Homo sapiens: one gene and its partner. The protein of the gene in region 2 purifies or fractionates together with the protein of the main gene of each other region. This does not show direct contact. Each region holds a gene or a part of one and is shown on either strand. Other genes may lie near its edges.

Region 1 (3,500 bases), on a different chromosome or scaffold from region 2:
CCCTACCCTGCCACTCCCATGCACAGTTCTGCACAGTGTCTGGCGCATATGGAGTAGATGCTCACCAGAGGCTGGTTGACTGTCGGAGATGATGGGTGGATTTGGTGTTTAAGTTGGAGTCTGGGCACTGGCTGGTCTCTGCCTGACCCAGCCACCCCACTGTGGCTCATCTCTTGCCACTTCCCCTCTCTGGCTCTGGATCTCGCCATGCCGAGCCCGCAAGCCTTCTCCAGATGCCATGTACTCTCTCCTCCAGGTAAACATGTGCTGTTCCTCCTGCCTGGAATGCTCTTTTTCCAGCTCCTACTCTTAGGAGTCAACTCAGACAACTCCTCCTCCAGAAAGCCTTCCCTGACCCCACTAGTCTGGGTCTAGTGCTTCTCCTGGCTCCCCCGCAGCAGAGCTCTGAGCTCTCAGACCGTCGCTACTGACTTGGCACCTCCTCAGTAGACCAGGTTCTGGAGGGAGGTGCTCTGTCAGAACCTCTTTTGTCTGCCAGGCGCGGTGGCTCATGCCTGTAATCCCAATACTTTGGGAGGCCGAGGCGGGCAGATCCCTGGAGGTTAGGAGTTTGAGAGCAGCCTGGCTAACATGGGGAAACGCTGTCTCTACTAAAAATACAAAAAATTAGCCAGGCTTGGTGGTGCGCACCTGAAATCCCATCTACTCGAGAGGCTGAGGCAGGAGAATCACTTGAATGCGGGAGGCGGAGGTTGCAGTGAACCGAGATTGCACCACTATACAAAAAAAACCTCTTTTGTCACCCCAGAGCCCAGCCAAGGGCCTGCTACCAAGCAGGCTCTCAGGAAGTGCTGGCGGTGTGGCAGGTAACTGCGACAGTCACACATGTGCCTGCTGACGGCAGCTCTCGCTTCCTTGTAGGGAGGCAGCGTCCATGGAGCAAAAGGAATGCCAGGATCCTGCACAGGCAGACGCGGGCCAGCCTCAGCACCGACAGCCGACGCGCAGATAGCAGAGCCATCCTTGGGGTAAGGACTGGGCCCCTCTCCTTCTCAGCCAGCTCCAGCTCCAGTCAAGTGCCCTTCCCAGCCTGGGGAGCAAAGGGTAGCATCTCCATCCCCACAGTCCTTTGCTTTTCTTGCTGTAGGTCCAGGGTAGAGTGGCAGACAGCAGAATTACTCTCTTCCTCCTTCTCCCGCTGAGTAATGTGTGCTTGCCGCACTCATTGAATGCTGAGTTGTTTCATTGCAAACCTCTGTTTTTTCTCCTTCACCCCAGATCTTATCAGTCTGGGTCTTGCTAATGCAGCCTCATGACCACATTTCCCAAAAAGCGTGGACCACGTTTCCCAAGTGTGTTCCATGAGACACCAGTTTCTTCGGTCACAGTGGTTTGATAATTCCAGGAAACAAAGACTTCTTGTTATCCTTGCTGCAGGACTTATCAGAGTCTTGAATCAGAGCCGTCATCAGGATTGAGCTGATCACGATAAGGGAGCTAGCGACTCGTGTTTCCCCACACTTATTTGATCGTGTAGACATCTTTGGGGACTGGGATTCCTTGGCCTGTGCTTTGGAAAACAGTTCCCAGAGGCAGGAGAGTCCCTTTAGAACATTTGGAGGATTAAATATGTTGACATAGAGCAGGCAGTTGGCAGAGTGCATGTCCTAGAAGGTGGTCCCGAGTCATAGCTGGTGTGTGTATAGACGGCTGTGTAATTTGCCAGACATACTCAGGTCGGTGATCTCATTTGACCATTTGAGGATGCTTAGGCAGTGGCCATTATCTCCAGTTTACAGATGTGGAAACTGAGAATCAGAGTGAGGAAGCAGCTTGCCCAGACTCATCTGTAAAGAAGGCAAGGACATGCGGCTTGAATCCAGACCCTGGAATCCTGGGCCAGGGTCTTCTGTTGTCTGCCCTGAGGCCTTCCTGCCTTTATCTCTCACCTCAGTTTTTTGTGTGAAGGAAGGCCTGAGTCTCCCAGCCTGGATTTTAAAAGAAATAGTAATTTTTTTTTTTTGTAATTACCAACATAGTTGTATATTCATTATATGGTTTTATACTGTTTGGCTATTTTTGGGGGACAGGGTCTCACTCTGTTGCCCAGGCTGGAGTGCAGTGGCACCATCATGACTCACTGCAGCCTCGATCTCCAAGGCTCCAGCGATCCTCCTGCCTCAGCCTCCCAACTAGCTGGGACTGCAGGTGTGCACTACTGTGCCCAGCTAATTTTATTTATTTATTTATTATGGAGATAGAGCCTCTCTACATTGCCCAGGCTGGTCTCGAACTCCTGGGTTCAAGAGATGCTCCTGCCTTGGCCTCCTAAAGTGCTGGGATTATGGGTGTGAGCCACCATGCCAGACCTGTTTGGATCTTTAATGTCATCTAGGAAATGAGTCTCTGCTGATTCTCATCTTCAGAGGTGTGAATGGGAAGGGGTATATTCTTCCACATCTATTGTTACCATTTGCTTATTTTTATAAAAATCTGGTCATGTTTGAGTTGCTGATTCACAGTTTGCTTTTGTTTCATATAATGATATCCCCCGGACCTCTTTTTTTTTTGAGATGGAGTCTTTGTCACCCAGGCTGGAGTGCAGTGGCACAATCTCAGCTCACTGCAAGCTCTGCCTCCCGGGTTCACTCCATTCTCCTGCCTCAGCCTCCCGAGTAGCTGGGACTACAGGCGCCCGCCACCACGCCCGGCTAATTTTTTTTGTATTTTTAGTAGAGACGGGGTTTCACCATGTTAGCCAGGATGGTCTTGATCTCCTGACCTTGTGATCCGCCGCCTTGGCCTCCCAAAGTGCTGGGATTATAGGCATGAGCCACCGCGCCCGGCTCCCCTGGACCTCTTTCCCATGCAAGAGGTAGATAGAGCTGTGTGTGGTCCTGGCAGAATGCACACCCTTGAGCCCCCCTGGCCCCTCCCCCTCACATGCTGGGAGTTTTGAGCTGTTTGGGCATTTACAGCAGCAGAGGGAGGTCGGAAGTGCCTGGTGTGTGATTGTGTCGACTCTCCTGTTTATGGGATAAGGTCAGCCAACTCCTGGCTCTGCCCCATAGGAGTTTCCTGTTGGTTTTGAGGAACTCTGTCCCCTGGAGAGAGGGGAGGCCTGAGCTGTAGTCTTTCATGCTGGGCAGCGCTGAGCAGGAAGCAGCAGGTCCTGCTTGTCAGATCATAATTCCTCCTTTTTGCCAAGGATGGCGTGGAATGAACCGCATGGGCCGGCCTGAGGGGTTTTGGCCTCCACCCACCACCTGGGTTCAGGGGACACACATGAATCAAGCTGAGACAAATTGAGTCTGAGCCATTGTTCTCCTGAGCCCAGCCCTTCCTGGGGATAGGAAGGAACAGGCAGACCCTGACTCAGTTTACCCTTGCTGTATCTGGAGGAAGTGTTGGTTGTGGTCCTTTTGGCATGCTCCTTTCAAGTTTTAGTTCTGAGAGTGGGCAGGTGAGGAGCAGGAGGAGGGCCCACCCTGCCACCTGGGTCCAAAGATGCTCTCTTTTGGGGTATAGCTGACCTCAGG
Region 2 (3,959 bases):
TCAACATCATGATAACTGAGGGCTTCAATATCCCACTTTCAGCATTGAACAGATCATCTAGGTAGAAAGCTAACAAATAATCATTGAATTTAATCTGTACCGCAGACCAAATAGACTTAACAGACATTTACAGAACACTTCATCCAATAGCTGTGGAGTACACATTCTTCTCCTCATCACATAGAACATTCTCCAGGCTGGACCATATGTTAAGACACAAAACAAGTTTCAACAAATTTTGAAAAATCAACATTATATCAAGTATATTCTAGACAAAAATAGAATAGAACTAGAAATGAATACTAGGAAGAACTTTGGAAACGATACAGATAACATGGAAATTAAACAACATGCTTCTGAACAACCATTGAGTCAATGAAAAAACAAAGAAGAAAATAACAAATGTTCTTGAAATATATGCAAATGGAAACACAACATACCAAAACCTATGGAATACAACAAAGACAGTGCTAAGAGAGAATTTTATAGCAATAAATGCCTACTGCAAGAACATGGTAATATTATAAACAAGCTACTATGCACCTCAAGGAACAAGAAAAACAAGAAAAAATGAAATCCAAACTTAGGAGAAGGAAAGAAATAATAAAAATCAGAGCAGGACTAAGTGAATTCAAGATTTAAAAAATGCAAAGAATTAATGAAACAAAAAGTTGACTTTTGGAAGAGATAAACAGACTTTATAAACTGCTAGCTAGACTAACCAAGAACAAAAGAGAGAATGCCAAATAAATAAAATCGGAAATAAAACAGGAGACATTACAACTGATATAAAAGAAATACAATGGATCATTAGTCTGTTATAAACAACCATATGCTAAATAATCCATACGAAGAATTTTTTTTTACCAACACCAATAATCAATCTAACTTTCCCAAATTCATTTTAAAATCCACCAATACTTTATAATAAATCATATTAAACTGTGGTTTATACCTGAGATTTAGATTATCAATTGACTTATTTATCTTTTCTGAGGCTCATATTACCTCCGAGCACATTTTAAAATTTATTTCAAGATTCTATCATTTATATAATTATACAGAATTATACTTTTCCTCCATGAATGTTGGTGTTTTATATTTTTATTGAGATAGAATTTACTATAAAATTCATTCCTTTAGAGTGTTCCATTTAGTGAGTATCAGTGGATTCTTAGAGTGGGATATACTGATGACCACTGAATGAAGGAATGAAGTACGAATCTATGCCACAACATGGATGAATCTTGAAAACATTATGCTAAATAAAAGAAGGCAGACATGAAGGATCACATATTTCTTATTCTGTTCATAGTAAATGTCCAGAATAGGAATATACATAGAGACAAAAATTAGATCAGTGGTTGCTAGGGACTGGGAGGAGGAGAGATTTCTTCTTGCGGTTATAAACATATTCTGGAATTAGATAATGGTGAGGGGTGCACAATTTTAAGAATACACTGATAACCACTGAATAGAACACTTTAAGGCAATGAATTTTATGGTAAATTGTATCTCATAAAAATATAAAAAACCCACTAACATTCATGGAGGAAAGGCATAATTATTTATAATTATATAAATAAGGGAATCTTGAATCATGAAGTATTATATAAATGAGGGAATCTTGAATTGTTAAGTATTAAAATGTGCTTCAGAAATGATCAATAAGTCAACCAGTAATCTAAATCTCAGGTATGAACCGCAGTTTAATATGTTTTTATTATGGGGTATTGATGAATTTTAAAATTAATGTGGGAAAGTCGTATTGATTATTTAATTAATATGCTTATATATAATTGGCTAGTTATGTGGTTAAAAATTAAGGTGGAATCTTAACTCTCACCATACAAAAAGTAATTTCCATATACATTAAATGATATCATATGAGTTTTATTCAACTTTAAAGGAACACAGAGGCTAGGTCCTTGCCTGGATCAGTGGTGAATTTATCCTGTGAACCAAGGATTATGGTGGAGTATCCACCTCTTCACCTCTAGCCCTTCTTCTAGTCATCATTCACTTTTCCTTTTTCCAATTCTTTAAATTTCCTGTGTTCTGTGTGTATCCTCTCACCATCTTTTGATCAAACATAACTCTCAAGTAAGTTTATTTTTTATTATTATTATTTTTTGAGACAGGGTCTCACTCTGTTGCCCAGGCTGGTGTGCAGTGGCATGACCTAAGCTGAATGCAGCCTTGACATCTCAGGCTCGAGCGATCCTGCCTAAGCTTCCTGAGTAGCCAGAACCACAGACACGCGCCACTATACCTGATTAATTTTTTGTATTTTTTTTTTTTTTTTGGAGAGATGGGGTTTCACCCTGTTGCCCCCACCAGGTCGGTCTAGAACTCCTGTGCTCACCCACCTCAAACTCCCCAAGTGCTGGGATTATAGACATGAGCCACTGTGCCCGGCCTCAAGTGAGTTTATCATAGGTTAAATCACTGCAGTGAACCACCTTATTTATTTCTTTAGTATCAACTCTTCAATCCTCTGAGCAGCCTTCATGGTACAGTAAAATCTGCCCATGCCTATTTTATTTTCAGACTCTTGAAAGACCTTGCATTTTCTTTTACTTATATTTTTAGAACTTTGGAATAAAAAAGTTTCTGTCTTACCTGGAGGAACTGTGAACATCAAGGAAAGGACTCCAAAGACAAAAAACAAGACCCTCATGGTTGAATAGGTAAAGCAGGTTAGAGAGAATCAGTAGCTGAGATGAAGAGGACTTCTGTGTACATTCAGTTCTCTGAAGAGGTGAGTTGTTGAGTGATTATTGAACCTTTCAGGAGCAAGAACATTTCTGTGTTTCAAGGAGATTTTATATCAGGAGAAAGCATGCAATCATCACGACTATCAGTCATTTAAAGTACATTTATCAAAGGTCAAGAGGGTGTGTGCAAAGGTAGTAGAAAGCACAGCCATGGCAAAGGCAGGAGAGAGACTTGAAATATCAGCATTGTCTTATGCATTCTGGAGGAACTGTAAAAGTTAAGGAAGCAGTTATAGAGGAAAAGCATTCATTTTATTTTTCTGATAATAGGAAGAAGCACGTAATACAAGAGCATGCCTATTTATTAATATTTTGGCACCGTGTGTTAGCATGCTTAAGCAATGGAATTAAATATGAAATTATAAACAGATTAGTGAGATACAGAACAACTTTTATTTGATTATCTTTCTGTCCAATCGATCAAATGAGATAAACTAATTTTTCTATTGAAATCTAAGTTCACACAAATTGTTTGCACATCAGTTATGTGTAATATGAGAGGAATTAAAGAAAGAAAAGTGGGCCTTAGGGAACCCATAATACACTTCGGAAAGCAAGTAATATATACAAAGAAACGGCAATGCAACACGAGCATATTTCTGGCAAAGAGGCACAAATTACTTCTTAGACACTAAGGAAATGAACATAAACACCAGAATACTTTGGGTGCCGTAGGGAATGCTTAAAGAGGGTATGAGTAAACTTTATTTATTTATTTATTTTTTATTTAGAGACAGGGTCTCACACTGTTGCCCAGGCTGGAGCGCAGTGGTGCGATCTTGGCTCACTGCAACCTCTGCCTCCCGGGTTCACGTGATTCTCCTGCCTCAGCATCCTGAGTAGCTGGGATTACAGGCACACGTCTCCATGCCTCGCTAAGTTTTGTACCTTTAGTAGCAATAGGGTCTTGCCATGTTGGTCAGGCTGGTCTCGAACTCCTGGCCTCAAGTGATCCACCCGCCTCGGCCTCCCGAAGTGCTGGGATTACAGGGGTGAGCCACCACGTCTGGCCAGAATATCAACTTCAGAAACTGCAAAGTACATGCACATTCGTGGTCTTACTTGACCTTCATTCCTTTCTAGATGGTGTCACTACAGGTGAAGTAACTTTTCTCAGTACCAAGAAGGAAGTTCTCTTTCTTCCATGGCTTCTTCTTGGTGCTACTTCTATAATACTTCAGA

The links.
Region 1: the proteins of DEFB131A (region 2) and LRRC8A purify together in Homo sapiens (affinity purification with mass spectrometry; one large-scale study listed by BioGRID and IntAct). This does not show direct contact.

Annotation. Positions count from the first base shown.
Region 1 is NC_000009.12:128,885,133-128,888,632, forward strand, and holds part of LRRC8A (volume-regulated anion channel subunit LRRC8A), read left to right. Parts: exon of another isoform or gene 1-256; intron 257-882; 5' UTR 883-989; intron 990-3,500. UniProt on the Homo sapiens protein: Essential component of the volume-regulated anion channel (VRAC, also named VSOAC channel), an anion channel required to maintain a constant cell volume in response to extracellular or intracellular osmotic changes.
Region 2 is NC_000004.12:9,443,255-9,447,213, reverse strand, and holds the start of DEFB131A (beta-defensin 131A precursor), read right to left. Parts: upstream 2,801-3,959; 5' UTR 2,681-2,800; coding exon 2,623-2,680; intron 1-2,622.